Regions from separate parts of the Homo sapiens genome. Here region 1 is linked to region 2. The links come from fine-mapping of genetic effects on gene expression. Tissue or cell type: skeletal muscle. Region 2 holds a variant in brackets; the other region holds the start of a gene. All regions are shown on one strand. Distances are between the middles of the regions.

Evidence for each region. PIP is the estimated chance that this variant, and not a neighbour inherited with it, causes the effect.
Region 1: KIF24 starts here. The variant in region 2 is fine-mapped to the expression of KIF24 in skeletal muscle (GTEx, PIP 0.90).

Annotation. Positions count from the first base shown.
Region 1 is chr9:34,324,676-34,332,780 of GRCh38, forward strand. It overlaps KIF24 (kinesin family member 24), which reads right to left and starts at 4,593. Exons shown (of 13, transcript NM_194313.4): 1 at 4,431-4,593. NUDT2 (nudix hydrolase 2) reads left to right here and starts at 4,894. Exons shown (of 5, transcript NM_001161.5): 1 at 4,894-4,924. RefSeq lists enhancers at 4,260-4,319, 4,420-4,519, 4,607-5,114, 4,650-4,839.
Region 2 is chr9:34,151,516-34,159,620 of GRCh38, forward strand. No RefSeq gene overlaps it. Among named protein-coding and RNA genes, the nearest start is that of UBAP1, 23 kb to the right of the region's middle. The variant G/A (reference allele first, on the strand shown) is at 4,725.

The DNA of each region.
Region 1 (8,105 bases), 170 kb after region 2:
ACATAGTACAAAGTCCAAACTCCTAAGCATGACCCACAAATCCTTCTGTAATCTAGCCCCTTCCTCACTCTACAGTTTAGTCAACTTCTTAGACCGTTTTATTTCTCTGTGCATTCATTCACATTGTGCTCTTAAGTGGCCTCCTCCACTATCATCAAACTTCCCTTTACCTGTCTACCTCTTACTGATTATAACAACAAATGAGGTCTTTTCTGGTCTCCCCCAATGTGATCAGATGTCCCTTCCGTGTCTGCATCATACCTTTTGCATATCTCTATTATTACAGTTAATTATATTAATAATTATTATATGATAATTATTTGATTATGTCTATTTCCCCTAATAGAGTATAATTTCTTTGTGGTCAAGGAATGTGTCTTGCCCAGGCAGAGTGGCTCACACCTGTAATCCCAGCACTTTGGGAGGCTGAGGCAGAAAGATCACTTGAGCCCAGGAGTTTAAGACCAGCCTGGGCAACATATGGAGAACCCATCTCTATAAATAAGTAAATAAATAAAAATTAATTGGGCATGGTGGCACACACCTGTGGTCCCAGCTACTTGGGAGGCTGAGATGGGAGGATCACTTGAGCCCAGGAGGTTGAGGCTGCAGTGAACCATGATGACACCACTGCACTCCAGCCTGGGCAGTAGGGTGAGACTTCGTCTCAAAAAAAAAAAAAAAGCAATATGTCTTATTAGTCTTTTTATACCCAGGTTCTAAAACAGTGCCTGGGGCCAGGCACGGTGGCTCATGCCTGTAATCCCAGAACTTTGGGAGGCTGAGGTGGGTGGATCACTTGAGGCCAAAAGTTCGAGACCAGCCTGGTCAACATGGTGAAACCCCATCTCCACAAAAAATACAGAAATTAGCTGGGAATGTTGGCACACACTTTGTAATCCCAGCTACTCAGGAGGCTGACATGAGAATCGCTGGAACCTGGGAGGAAGAGGTTGCAGTGAGCCAAGATTGCGCCACTGCACTCCAGCCTGGGCAACAGAGTAAGACTATCTCAGAAAAAAATATAAATAAATAAATAAAAGAGTGATTGGAAATAATATTCAATAATTGTTTAATGAATAAATATCCCTACAGTATATTAAAACTCTATAAAAGCATTTGATATCGTTTGTGGTAACGGGTGGTAGAAACTATTTATCAGGGTAATTTGATTACTCAGGAAAATTGTGACAGAGATGCTGGTGCCCTGAGTCACTGCTCCTGGACACCAAAATTATGCAAGTTTGTATTACTCAAATGAATTGATATGGACACAGATATGGTTACAGTTCCAAGAGGAAACTTTATCCAATCTTCAAGAAATATTTTTTGAGAGACTTGTATGAGATAGGCCCTGTTTTATGCACCAGGAATATAAGTGAACAAAACAGACAAGGTCAGCCAGGCACAGTGGCTCATGCCTGTTATCCCAACACTTTAGGAGGCTGAGGGAGGATTGCTTGAGCCCAGGAGTTTGAGATGAGCCTGGACAACATAGTGAGGCCTTGTCTCTACAAATAAACAAAATTAGCTGGGCATGGTGGTACATGCCTGTGGTCCCAGCTACTTGGGGGGCTGAGGTGGGAGGATTGCTTGGGCCTGGGAGTCAGAGGCTACAGTGAGCCATGATCACACCACTGCAGTTCAGTGTGGGCAACAGGGCGACAGAGTAAGAGCCTGTCTCAAGAAAACCCCCCAAAAAACAGATAAGGTCCCTGCCCTCATGACACTATTATTTTAATGGGAAGAGATAATTAATAATCAATAAGCGGTAGTTTTAGATGATGATAATCACTACCGAAGAATAAAGCCCAGTGCAGGGCTTACTTTACATTGGATGATCAGAGAAGGCTTCATTCAGAAGGGAATATTTGAGGTGAAACCTGAAATAACATGGAGTCACTTATGTAAAAATCAGGAGGAAGAGGGTTCCACGTGAGCACATTAGCCCAAAGGTGGAAATGAGCATGGCAAAATCAAGCCATCAAACACGGACAGGTTGGCTGGCATAGTAGGTGAGAAGGAGAATAGTATGAGAAGAGGAGAGAAAGGTAGGGGCCAGATTATGTAGGGTGTACTGGGCCACATAAAAGTGTCTGAATTTTACTTTTAAGTGAAGTAGGAAGTCATTAGAGGATCTTAAGTGGAGAAAGTATATGCTATGATTCGTCTTCAAAGTTCACTCTCCCAGTTCTGTGAGGAAATGGATCACAGCAGGTGGGCAAAAGTGGAAACAGGGAGATCATTTAGGAAGCTACTGCACTGAACTGACAAAAAAAAATGCTGACTTGGAAAAAATGTTTCCTTTCATGAGGGTTAATTAGAATAATGTAAATTAACTGCTACATTCAGTGTCTGATATATAAACACTCAACAATATATTATACTATTATTATTAGTTTATACCTACAGAAAACTCTTCTTATTCAACACGATATGAACATCAAAACCCTTGAGACAGTAACTTGGGAGGTATACAATGACCATACACTCAAGGTTTAAGAAGTAGAACTCTATTATTTATTTAACAAAATGTGTTGAGGATCTACACTGTGCAAATTATAAACTGGTTTGCTGAGCCAGCATAGGGAAACTGGATTAATATATCAGGCATCATAGAATACTAGATCTGGAAGGGATCTAGAAGAGTTCAGCCCCTCACTTTACGACAAAAGAGCAGCCCAGAGAAAGAAACTGTGGTTCTCCCTAAACTAAAAACTGAGAGGCTCATACCTTAGGTTGCCCCAAGGACACACTCTGAATAACTAAAGATTTTCATTAACAATATAAAACCACAAATTTTAAATAAAATGCTATCTTAGCAGTAATGTGCTACACTAAGAAAAATGTAATATGCATATAAAGCCCTGGATACAGTGCTTTGTACGGGGTGAACACTCAATAAATGGTAACTACTACTTTCAGCAGCTAAAAAAAAAGTCTGTATGGTCTTTGGAAGGCTGAGAGTGTGTGGTCTACCTGACATCAACTACTTGACTTGAGAGTAGAGCCACAGGAATTTTAATCTAATTCAATTCTTTGATTTTCCAGATGGAAAAAATGAGGTCTAAAGGGGCTAGATTCAGGCGTTCAAGGCTGCGGTGAGCTATTATCATGCTAGTGCACTACAGCCTGGGTGACAGAGCAAGACATTTTCTCTAATAAAAAAAAAATAATAATAATAATAAAGGGACTAAATGACTTGCAAAGCCACCCACAGTGAATTAGAGACAGAGACAGAGCCAAAGCCAAACCCACATGTAGTGGGTTTCCACTACATGTCACAGCTATAAGGTAGTGTTTCAAACTTTTATAAAAGGGTAACAAGAACATAGCTGCTGTACTGAACTTTTTCACTCCTTTTATTAAGGCCACCAGTGAGCTATGAATTTGATATAAGGAGCAATCACACCAACAATCAGGCTGTGAATATATAATCCATGAGTTAACAACGAAACAGTCTTAGGAACGCAATTCTATCATAGACACCTGATGAATAGATGGAGTTCACCTGAGCAGCTGTTATATGCACTTCAATAGAGAGACTACAAAGCCTCTCTACTTGTAGAATACAAGTACAAAGAAGATGCTTTAAAACATTTTCCAAAGCACACTTAAAATGTGACAATAGCTGCCGGTCACTAAGAAGCTAAAGGGAGATAAATTATCTTGGCATACAGCAACAGAATGGTTTATTTTAAGCAAAGACTAAAAGGAGTCTAATAAAATTATTGGGAGACCAAGGCTAAAAGCCACAGATGCAGGAAGAGTTGCAGCAACCAATCCAAAAAAGTTTAGCCTTTCACAAAGAGTAGAAAGGCCAGCTGTGGACTGTGTGTGGACTTTTAGGTCCTTTTGCATTGAAGATTAGGGTGGCCTCCCCCTAGCCTCGAAATAAAAAATCGTCTCTGAAGCAGAGAGACAACAAGGCAGGGCATGAAGAGGAATCCAATCTATTTCTTGTAAATTAAATTCAACTCAACAAATATTTCCTGAAAATCTACTATGTGCAAGACATTGTGAACGATGCTTGCCTTACCTCAAAGGCTTCAAAATTTTATGGGAAAAGGGAAGCGAACGGGCTTCCCGGAAGTAAACAACCCAAGGGCGAATAGAAATGCCCTAAAAGAGGTGCCGGTCAGGCTTATCGGTTCAAAAGCAAGAAGGCTTTGGGACTCAAGAGTTTAGTCTCCCAAAGTGAGAGAAGTGGCGTTCAAGATAATTGCTGAAGAAAAGGCAGAGATATGGGGATGAAAGATAGGAAAGTAGGTGAACTTTAGGAAGAGCCAAGAGGGGCCAACTCTCGGTTCCCTCACAACTGCCAGTTTCCTCCCGCGCTCAGCCGACGTCACGCGCACCCGTGTCCGCGGGCAGGCGCCACGGTTCCGGACCAGACCTACCCCTCCTCTATTCTCCCCGCCCTTTCTCACCTCGGTCCAAACTCCTCGGTCTGCCCTGTCTGAGAAGAGGAGAAGACAATGCCGTCGGGAGTGAGCCCCAAAGCCCGCAACCTAACAGTCCCGTCAACCCGGGAGCCACCGGCGGCGGCCAGGCCGCATCTCCATGGCAACGCCGCCAAGCGCCAGTTCGAACGCCCGCGCTGTGGCCCGCGCGTCGCCAGTCCCGCACCGCCCACCAATGGGCATCCAAGGAATCGGTTGACGTTCGTTGACTTCTCCTCTGGAAGACCAATCAGAGGTCTGAAGAAACCGTGGGCGTAACTCTCAATTTCCGACCTTCAGCCAATCGTTCCGCTTGAGGGAAGATCTCGCGACGTTTCAGTGTGAGACGCGCACCTTTGAGGCGGGTCGAAGATCCTTCTGCCGAATTCTATTGATGGGCCCAAGCGTAACCAGGCTCTTCTGATTGGCCGGTGTACTTCAGTTTCCGTCCAAGGTCCGCCTCCTACCTCCTTCTGCTTCGGGTGAGTACCCTTAAGGGCCCACTTGATTTTAGTTCTCAGTGGAGGAAATGAGCCTTGGAGCGATGGGAATCTGCCTCTGGCAAACCTCTGGTCGCTGCAGGGCCCGAGAGGGATGCGCCCTCCTCTAAGTTGGCAGTGAGGTGTGGGCAGGCCAGGTCCCATCCGCTCTCAGGACCTCAGTTTTCCTGTCTGCACCGGGAGAAGGGAGGTTCCCTGACTCTGAGCCTTGCTTGTCCCCGTCGGAGTGGGGATAGGGTGGGTCGTCCAAATCCCAGAGGCGGGAGAGGTCCAGGTTTAGGGCCCAGAGGCCCAGGCGCCGAACCTTCCCCTCCCTGGGCCTCAGTTTCACTTGTTGCTACCCATTAAACCCCGCCTGCTTTCCAAAAGAGATTTTATGTTTTCTAATTGCTTCAGTTATTGAATGGATAATATCGTGGCAGTTATAGCAGAAGTAAAGAAAGTCGAACAAGAGCCCCACCGCCTTAAACAAACAAACAAAAAAGGGACAGCGTAAACAATGCAGGCCGGGTGCGGTGGCTCACGCCTGTAATCCCAGCATTTTGGGAGGCCAAGGCGGGCGGATCACGAGGTCAGGAGATCGAGACCATCCTGGCTAACACGGTGAAACCCCGTCTCTACTAAACAAAATACAAAAGTTAGCCAGGCGTCGTGGCGGGCACGTATAGTCCCTGCTACTCGGGAGGCTGAGGCAGGAGAATGGCATGAACCCAGGAGGCGGAGCTTGCAGTGAGCGGAGGTCGCGCCACTGCACTCCAGCCTGGGCGACAGAGCGAGACTCCGTCTCAAAAACAAAACAAAACAAAAAAAAACTGAATGCAATCAAATTGTCAAATGTAAAACGCTATTATAGAGTTAAGGTTAAGATCATTGATGTTAGGAGTCAGGCAGACCTACATTTGAGTCACTTACCCAGACATCTCTGAGCTATAGTTCCCTTTCTACTCTTCTGAAAAATGGCAGTAATGCCTCAGCGGGTTGTTGTGAAGATTAAGTGAAATAATGAAGGTAAAGCACTTGACACAACGCCTGGCGAGTAGTAACTTCTTAAAAAATGGTAGCGGCCGGGCGCGGTGGCTCACGCCTGTAATCCTAGCCCTTTGGGAGGCCGAGGCGGGCGGATCACGAGGTCAGGAGATCGAGACCATCCTGGCTGACACGGTGAAACCCCGTCTCTACTAAAAACACAAAAAATTAGCCGGGCGTGGTGGCGGGCGCCTGTGGTCCCAGCTACTCGGGAGGCTGAGGCAGGAGAATGGCACGAACCCGGGAGGCGGAGTTTGCAGAGAGCAGAGATCGCACCACTGCACTCCAGCCTGGGCGACAGAGGGAGACTCCGTCTCAAAAAAAAAAAGGTAGCTATTATTCTTATAATAAGAACAGGCAAATACACTAGTCAGTGCGTTGGTGTACTTTTTGTAACTGAGTACCCAATTTTGCCCAAAATTAGTCAGTTAAGGGAAAAAAGGTAATTCTTACTAATAAGGAAACAAATCCATTCTTCAAAAGATAAATTATTTTTCTAGTTTCTATATTAAAAGGAATTTATGCTGTGGGACCTTATAAGGAATATATATACTGTGGTGAACAGTGTTGAGCAGTTTAACAGACAAGATGAAAAGTCATTTCTTTAAAACAGAGAAGCTTTTTGATGATCTTTTATGACACACGGGTAACAGTAACTCATATATTTAGTACCTCTGATAATGTCAGACCCTCTATATATGTCATTTATAAACTCCACAACAACCATGCAAAGTAGGTGTTAACTTCATTTTACAAATGAGGAAGTTAAGTATCTTGCTCTAAGTATCTTGCTCTATTAACTTCAATAGCTAGGCCTTTCTGACTGCATAGACAGCCATGCTTTTCTGTGTTTCTGACTAAAGGAGGATGAAAATGCTTGGAATACCAGACAGATGCAGGGGCAGGTTGGACAGCTTGACTTACCTAAATTGGAGGGAATGTGAGCTGCAGAGGTACCTATGGTAGGAGCAATATCTTGCTCTAATAGAAAATTTTCACCGTGGTCTTGGTAGAGAAGGGAGGAGAAAAAAATTGTTTTAATAAAAATAATTTTAAAAAAGTAAATTCCCACCTTGGGAAATGAAGAGATAGGATGAGATGATCACTGAACTTTAGACCCATCTGTTCATTTATCTTATGGATAGACTATAGCACTTCAAATTCAACTTGTCCCAAACAAATGCTTCACTTGCACCCCCTCCTCCACCCAGGCACTCAAACCAAAGCCTTTCTCTTTCCCTTGGCTTATGAAACATCTCTCTGTCCCTTAGACAATGAAATATCACTATTGTCCATTTTACTTTGAAATATCTCTCAGATTCATCCCTTCCTTTCCTTTCTCACAGCCTCTGCCTTGATCTAACTGGAATCATTTGTTAACTGGTCTGTTGCAATAGACTTGTAACTGGTTAATCTCTCTGCCTCCAATCTGTCCTAATTCGTTCCCCAGCTTGCTTGCAGCTAGAATATCTTTGTAAAATGTCAGTCTGACCAAATTATACCCTTGCCTAAAACCAGTCAGAGGCTTCATTGCCTACAGAATATAAACTAAGCTGTTTACCAATGAGATGTCATTTTGTGCTTGAGGGTGTTGCCCACACTCCTCCCTTTGCTGGCAGTGCCTTGCATCCGCCTCCCTTCTGCCTGGTAAACTAGTGACCCATCAGAATCCTTATGGGGTACCTTGTTAACCTAAAGATGCTTCTTTGCTGCCTTTCCATCTTACGTTGCACAAAACACACTGTAACTTGTCTGTTGGAATGTCTTCCACTTTCACTAGCCTGTAAATCTCTAGGAAGTTGGTGCTTGGTAGTATTCAGCTTCATATCTATCTGTCAATCCTTCACACTGTCTGTCGCATGGGATACGCACAACAGACAAATTCCCCGAGTTAGCTTTCTAGAATTGTACAGCAGATGGCACTAATAGGCTGCTTAACAAATCCCCTTCACTAAGAATGATTTTTGTCCCAACCTTGTCTGACTTTGGCCTTATCCTAGAAGCCAATATTTATGCCATTACAGGTAAAATCTCCTGTTTCCTCCCTCAGCCAATAGCAAAAATAACAAAATGACTCAGCAGCTTCGTCTCTGCAAGAATGGAGTGGCAGATGTCCAGGGAAAGGTGCATTTGAGGG
Region 2 (8,105 bases):
ATCCAGAGTGCCCCTTCTTTGCCGGAGTAAGTCATGTACCTCAGTTGAGAGCTCCCGTTGGGACATAAAGTCCATGAATTCAGTGAGGCCTTGCTCTTCTCTGTGATCAGCACAGAACTCAGCTCTTGGCCTTGCCAGTAGCAGCAGCAGTCAGAGGTAAAGGGGCCTTGGGGGAGAAGTGATTCTGACTCCTTTATTATGTAGGTGAGGAGACTGAGACTACCCCTTCTCTCATCAAGAAGGGAAGGCATCTTTGGGCCTCAGTGGCAAAAAGGTCAGGAGAGTGGGTAGTGGGGTGCTGTTGTTTGGAGCACCCAGTTTTGGAGTCAGACCGACTTGGGTTGAAAGCCAGTGATCCTGAGTAATAACTTCCACTCTCTAAACGTGTTTCCTTCGTTGCAAATTGGGGTTAATAATGTTGTGTTCCTTACAGAACTATTAAGAGAATTCAATGCACAGAGACATATAAAATACTACGCTTGGAACAAAAGAAGTATTTTAAAAGTCGTTAATATTATGCATTTCATTTTTTTTCCTTTTTTTCCCCTTCTAATCAATGTCAGAAAAATTAAGGAAATAGGAAGTCACTTCCAAGGGAGCTCTGGCTGCTCTGCAAACCTGTTAGTTAGCTATGAGATCCAAGCTACTCAGGAGACCCAGAGCAAGTTGTTACTTCTTTCTACTGATTGGGAAACTGAAGAATAGAAGAAATGTAATTGTCTGCCTTGCCTAATGGCATGGTGTAAAATAATAAGAAATATGCAAATTGGTCTTTGACCATGGTTCCTGTCTGACACAGAGCTTCTAAGAACTGTATAATTTTCTGAGAGATTGGAGCTTCTGATACAGAGCTCCTAAGTCTCTTGTAATTTCAGTTGATAGAAGTACATTTTGTGCTGAAGCAACTCTGTGAGCTCCTGGATGGGGGCTAACCACCAGAAAGACCAAGTCATAATTTGAAGCTTGGAACTTTTACCCTTACCTCCCATTTTCTGGAGAGGAGAGAGGGCTGGAAATGGCATTAATAATCAGTCATGGCCAGGCACAGTGGCTCACGCCTGTAATCCCAACACTTTGGGAGGCCAAGGTGGGCAGATCACTTGAGGTCAGGAGTTCTAGACTAGCCTGGACAACATATCGCTACTAAACCCTGTCTCTACTAAAAATAGCAAAAAACAGAAAAATAAAATTAGCTGGGTGTGGTGGTGTGAGTCTGTAGTCCCAGTTACTCAGGAGGGTGAGGCAGGAGAATCACTTGAACCCGAGAGGTGGAGGTTGCAGTGAGCCAAGATTGCACCACTGCACTCCAGCTTGGGCAACAGAGCGAGACTCCGTCTCAAAAAAAAAAAAAAAAATTAGCCATGCGTGGTGGCAGGTGTCTGTAATCCCAGTTACTCAGGAGGCTGAGGCAGGAGAATCACTTGAACCCGGGAGGCGGAGGTTGCAGTGAGCCGAGATCGCGCCATTGCACTCCAGCTTGTGCTACAAGAGCAAGACTCCATCTCAAAAGAAAAAAAATCCCGGCCGGGTGTGGTGGCTCACTCCTGTAATCCCTGCACTGTGGGAGGCCGAGGCAGGCGGATCATGAGGTTAGGAGATTGAGACCATCCTGGCCAACATAGTGAATCCCATCCCTACTAAAAATACAAAAATTAGCTGAGCATGGTGTTGCATGCCTGCAGTCCCAGCTACTTGGGAGGCTGAGGCAGGAGAATTGCTTGAACCCGGGAGGCGGAGGTTGCAGTGAGCCGAGATCATGCCACTGCACTGCAGCCTGGGCGACAGAGCAAGACTACGTCTCAAAACAACAACAACAACAACAACAACAAAACCAAAGGTACAGTTTTTGGGTTGGGGAACACATCCATGTGCTGGGAGGATGGTACATACCAACTCCACAGGGACAGAAACACCCGTGCTCAGGACCTTTCAAGACCTTGTCCTATGTATCTCTTCATGTGTCTGTCCATCTGTACCCTTTGTAATATCCTTTGTAATAAACCGATAGATGTAATAAAATGTTTCCCTGAGTTCTGTGAGCCTCCCTAGCAAGTTAAGTAGGAGGGAGTCATGGGAACTCCCAATTTATAGCCAGAAGTTCTGGAGGCCCAAACTTGCAACTGGCATCTGAGGAGCAGGGCAGTCTGGTGGGACTGAGCCCTTAAGGTGTGGGATCTAATTCTAACTTCATGTAGATAGTGTCAGAATTGAACTGAATTATATGACACCCAGTTGGTGTCCACTGGAGAACTGCCTGGTGTACAGGAGAAAAAAACCCCACACATCTTGTTACAGAAGTGTTCTATGTTAAGAGTATAGTAGGAGAAAACAGTTCGTTTAGTTTATTTTTCCTACTACACACATGGTGTAACAGAAAAAGCATGGGTTTTGAAAGTAGGATTTTGAACTGAGTTCAAATGCTGGCTATGCTGCCAAGTTGCTTTGTGATCTTGGATAAGTTACAGAACCTCTCTGAGCCTTTCTCCGAGATGTTAATACCTACTACATAGGGTTATTATGAAGAGTAAATGAAATGATGTATGTGTATGCCAAACACATGTGAAGTTGTGAAATCTATTTTTTTTTTTTTTTTTGCCTATTCTAGAATCTAATTTTTCCTTTTTCTGGTAGCATAATTTGATTTTTTCTTTAGGGAAGTGCCTTTCCTCTTCTGCACACTCTAATGCTAAAACTGTCAGTCAAGATTCCCTACTTCTCCAGCCAAGTGGTCATATTACCCAAGTTAGGCTAGCCAGACCCTTGTTGCCTGTAATTCGAATCCTTTTGGGGGTGAAATGGAGATGGAAAATGGCTGGAGCTGATTCATCCCAGGTGTCATTCTGAAAAGACTATCTAATAGTTTTTGCCATCTAGATCTCTGTAGCTACCTGGTTCTTGTCTTTTACTTTTTAAAATTAATTTATTTTAGATACAGGGTTTCACTATGTTACCCAGCCTAGAGTGTAGTGGCTTTTCACAGGTATGATTATGGAACACTGCAGCCTTGAATTCCTTGTCTCAAGCAGTCCTTCCACCTCAGCCTCCCAAGTAGCTGAAACTACTGACTTGTGCCGCTGCACACAGCTTAAACCAATAATTTCATTTACTTTATTTTTTATTCTTTAAAAATTTTTTAACCAATAATTCTAAAAAATTAAATTTAACATTGTAATGATTTTAGAAAAGCGGTAATTGCTTTAGAAACAAGTCAACATTTCTTTTTAATTTTAGTCAGTTCAAGTCATGTTAGTCTATGGATTTTAGTCAATGATTTTTTTCCCTTTCAAGTTTTTTATGCTGAAGTGTTTTAAAATAACTGTAGACATTCTTAACTCTCGTAAATTACATAGTCAAAAAGATTTAATTCCTAATTTCTACTCAAATTTCTCCAACTGTACCAAAAATTACTTATACATGCATTCTGTCCAAACTAGGATCCAACCACAGATGACACTTCAAATCTTAGAATCCAGGTGCTATGTTCCTTAAGCCTCTTTTAATGTAAAAGAGGTTTTTTTAGACTTTTTTTTTTTTTTTTTTGAGACGGAGTCTCACTCTGTCACTAGGCTGGAGTGCAGTGGCGCGATCTTGGCTTACTGCAAGTGATTCTCCTGCTTCAGCCTCCCAAGTAGCTGGGACTACAGGTGCACGCCACCACACCCAGCTAATTTTTGTATTTTTAGTAGAGACGGGGTTTCACCATGTTGGCCAGGATGGTCTCGATCTCTTGACCTTGTGATCTGCCCGCCTTGGCCCCCCAAAGTGCTGGGATTACAAGTGTGAGCCACCGTGCCTGGCTTTTTTTTCTTTTTGAGATGGAGTCTCATTCTTTTGCCCAGGCTGGAGTGCAGTACCACAATATTAGCTCACTGCAAACTCAGCCTCCTGAGTTCAAGTGATTCTCCTGCCTCAGCCTCCTGAGTAGCTGGGATTACAAGCACGCACCACCACACCTGGCTAACATGGAGAAACCCCATCTCTACTAAAAATACAAAATTAGCTGGACGTGGTGGCACATGCCTGTAATCCCAGCTACTTGGGAGGCTGAGGCAGGAGAATCACTTGAACCCAGGAGGCAGAGGTTGCAGTGAGCCAAGATTGTGCCATTGCACTTCAGCCTGGGCAACAAGAGCAAAACTCCGTCTTAAAAAAAAAAAAAAAAGGACCACAAACAAAAAAATTCCCCCCCATTTTTAAAAGACTTAAATACACACTAACATAATCTCTAATACCTGATGTCTGCATTCCTAGGATGACCTTAGCCTAGCCCCACCTGCTGGCTTAAAGTGTCTGCCCAAGGAAGCTAAAAAAGCAGCACCTACAGATAGGTTCCTGACCACCATTTCTTAGAGCATTTACTTAAAAGGGCTTAGAATTGTGGATCCTTCCTCTGTGCCTTTGAAAGATATATGTATCTCCCATAATTTAGGAGTGTCTTTCTCAAGGACCTGAAAGCTATTCCATTGAAATGTAATCATTGGAAAGGATAGGGCCTCTGTCCCCTAGTCTCTCTGGGAGGATAGAATTCTAACTCGTTAATTGCCAATTAACAGACAAAGGTGGCCTAATTGGCATTTACACCAACCAACCCTTTGTAATTTTTCCTGACTCAGCGCCCTCTGTTCTATCCCACAACTCAGTCTTTGTCTTTATTTTTTAATTTATTATTATTATTATTTTTGAGACAGAGTCTTCCTGTGTCACCCAGGCTGGAGTGCAGTGGC[G/A]TGATCTTGGCTCACTGCAACCTCCGCCTCCCGGGTTCAAGTGATTTTCCTGCCTCAGCCTCCTGAGTAGCTGGGTGTACCACGCCAAGCTAATTTTTGTATTTTCAGTAGAGATGGGGTTTTGCCACGTTGGCCAGCTAGTCTTGAACTCCTGACCTCAAACGATCCACCCACCTCACCCTCCCAAAGTGCTGGGATTACAGGCATGAGCCACCGCGCCTGACCAATTTTTTTTTTTTTTTTTTGAGACGGAGTCTGGCACTGTCACCCAGGCTGGAGTGCAGTGGCGCAATCGCAGCTCACTGCAACCTCCACCTCGCGGGTTCAAGCAATTCTTCTGCCTCAGCCTCCTGAGTAGCTGGGATTACAGGTGCCTACCACCATGCCCAGGTAAATTTTTGTATTTTTAGTAGAGATGGGGTTTCACTATGTTGGCCAGGCGGGTCTTGATCTGCTGACCTTGTGATCCACCTGCCTCGGTCTCCCAAAGTGCTGGGATTACAGGCGTGAGCCACCATGCCCGGCAAACCGATTATTTTTATTTATTTATTTTTTTGAGACGGAGTTTCACTCTTGTTGCCCACGCTGGAGTGCAATGGCACGATCTCGGCTCACTGCAACCTCTGCCTCCCAGGTTCAGGCGATTCTCCTGCCTTAGTCTCCTGAGTAGCTGGGATTACAGGCACCCGCCACCATGCCTGGCTAAATTTTTGTATTTTTAGTAGAGATGGGGTTTCACCATGTTGGCCATGGTGGTCTCGAACTCCTGACCTCAGGTGATCCACCTGCCTTGGCCTCCCAAAATGCTGGGATTACAGGTGTGTGCCACCCCACCTGGCCTAAATGTTTTTTTTAAGCCCACAACTAACATCATATGTCTTTCTCTCTTTATAAGGCCTAGTTACCTCTAAAAATGGAAGCTGAGTTTAGTTCATACTGCACCCTCTTCCCTATTGCAAAGGAATATTACTGATGAATAGGTGTCCTTACCACTGTAACTAGTTTATTTGTTTATCTTTGACAAGCATGTTGACCAGCGTTATGGAATTTCACTCTATTTACATGTGGCTTAGTGTTCGGCATCAGACTCAGTGGGACCACAATACATTTCTGATCCTCTTTTTCATATAGCTCTTCTCTGGCAAAATTGCCCCCAAAATCCCAGCTGCCTTAGTTTCCTCAAACTTGATCTCTGCTTCCTCACCCCATGAACACTGCTATGTTCTGCTTGGATTTCCTCACCCTGAGCAGAAGCCTAGAAACTGTCTACAGGCAGAAAGCCAAAGTGTTTTTAGGCTCATCTTACTTGCTTTTTTCTTCTCTCAGGGAACAGAGTCCTGTACTCCTTGTCCAGTGTCTGAGAATAGGTATTTCATATAAATTTGTCTACTTTTCTCATTCTTTATCACCAGAGGGCAAGTCCAGTACCAACTATTAGAGGAACTTAGGATTTCATTTTTGAAAAACTTTTAATAATTAATTTAATTGGGTTGGAGTAAAGAAAGGGGGAAAAAATGAAGGTGGACACCATAAGACTTAAAAGGTAAATGGCAAGGAGAGATCTTTTTAAATACATTTAACAGAAGGATAATGTATGGAATATGCCAGCTCCTTCAAATATATAAGAAAAAAGGAAACAACCCAGTGGTAAAATGGGCAGAGGATAATAACAAGCAATTCACAAATGGTCAATAAACACAAGAAATATACAGCATAAGGAAATACAAATTAAAATCCAATGAAAAACCATTCATTGGCTTGGTAGGATGGCTCACGCTTGTAACCCTGTGCTTTGGGAGGTCAAGGTGGGAGGATCACTTGAATTCAGGAGTTTGAGGCCAGCCTGGGCAACATAGCAAGATCCCTGTCTCTACAAAAAACTAAAAAATTAGCTGGGCATGGTGGTGCATGCCTGTAGTCACAGCTACTCTGGAGGCTGAGGCAGAAGGATCACTTAAGTCCCAGAATTTGAGGCTGCAGAAAGTTATGATTGGGCCAGTACACACCAGCCTCAGCGACAGAGCAAGACTCTGTCTCTCTCTCTCTTTTTTTTTTTTTAGCAAAATCAAAAAAATTTTAAATGTCGGCAAGAATACAGCAAAACAGCTACCTTCATACACTTTGGTTCCAGTGTAAAGAAATCTGTTTGACACGCAATTTGGAGAAATGGGGAAGCTGTGGTGAATGGGAATTCATGGCCCTGGACCTACAAAAAGCCTGCATTCCTGCCAGTATGGCTACTTTGTTCATGTGCGCACTGTGCCTGCTCTGGGGGGGTTAATGACACAGGCTATCATCAACTAGCTGAGTCATTTTGTTTACTTGGCTGTTCAGTGCCTCTTATGTGGTGCATTCTCTCTGGTATGCCTTAACATGTTGTTACGAACTGAATTGTGCCCCGCCCCTCCAAGTTCTTATGTTGAAGTCCTAACCACCCCACTTACCTCAGAATGTGACTGTATTTGGAGAAAGGGCCTTTAAGTAGGTGATTAAAGATCCTAATGCAATCTGACTGGAGGCCTTATAAGGAAGAAATCTGGACACACAGAGATACCAGAGACGTGAGTGCACAGAGAAAAGGCATAGAGTTGAGGATACAGTGAGAAGGCGAAAGCTAAGGAGAGAGGCCTGAGAAGAAACCAAACCTCCTGACACCTTGACCTTGGACTTCTGGCCTCCAGAACTGTGAGAAAATAGATTTACATTGTTTAATCCATCCAGTCTATAGTATTTTGTTATGGCAACCCTAGCAAACAAATACACATGTGATACAAAGATCTTCATACTCATGCCCCTTCCTATATGTTCACTTGGAATTCTTTGTCCTTAGATCTCCTTATTCCCAATGTTTCCAGTCTTTCTCATTCAAGGCCTCTAACCAACCAACCAGTCACTCACCACTATCCATGATTCTGAATATATCCTAACCTCAGGCTACTTTTATTCACCAAAATTAGATGGTGCATTTGCCAAAGCTTCCCAGTTAGGAGGATTGCTTCTTAACACCTTGTCTTTCAGGGTCCTCACTATGTCCTATTTTCTGCTTGCGTTTTCTCACCCACCGAGCCAACCTCCTCTGTTAGCTGGCCACAAGAGCATATATGGCAATAGATATAAGCTAAGAGGTGCTAAGGTAAGAGCAGTAGATGACTGGGGGCTCGTGCCACCTGCAGCTTATACACTTTAGCTGTATTTGTGTCTGCTCCTGAATGTACCACTTCTGCATTGCGACAGATTGCTGCTGGCCCATCCACCTTATGATGTGGTGAGTCTGAGAAACAAAACTTTTTTTTTTTTTTGAGACAGAATCTCACTCTGTTGCCCAGGCTGGAGTGCAATGGTGCAATCTTGGCTCACTGCAACCTTCACCTCCCAGGTTCA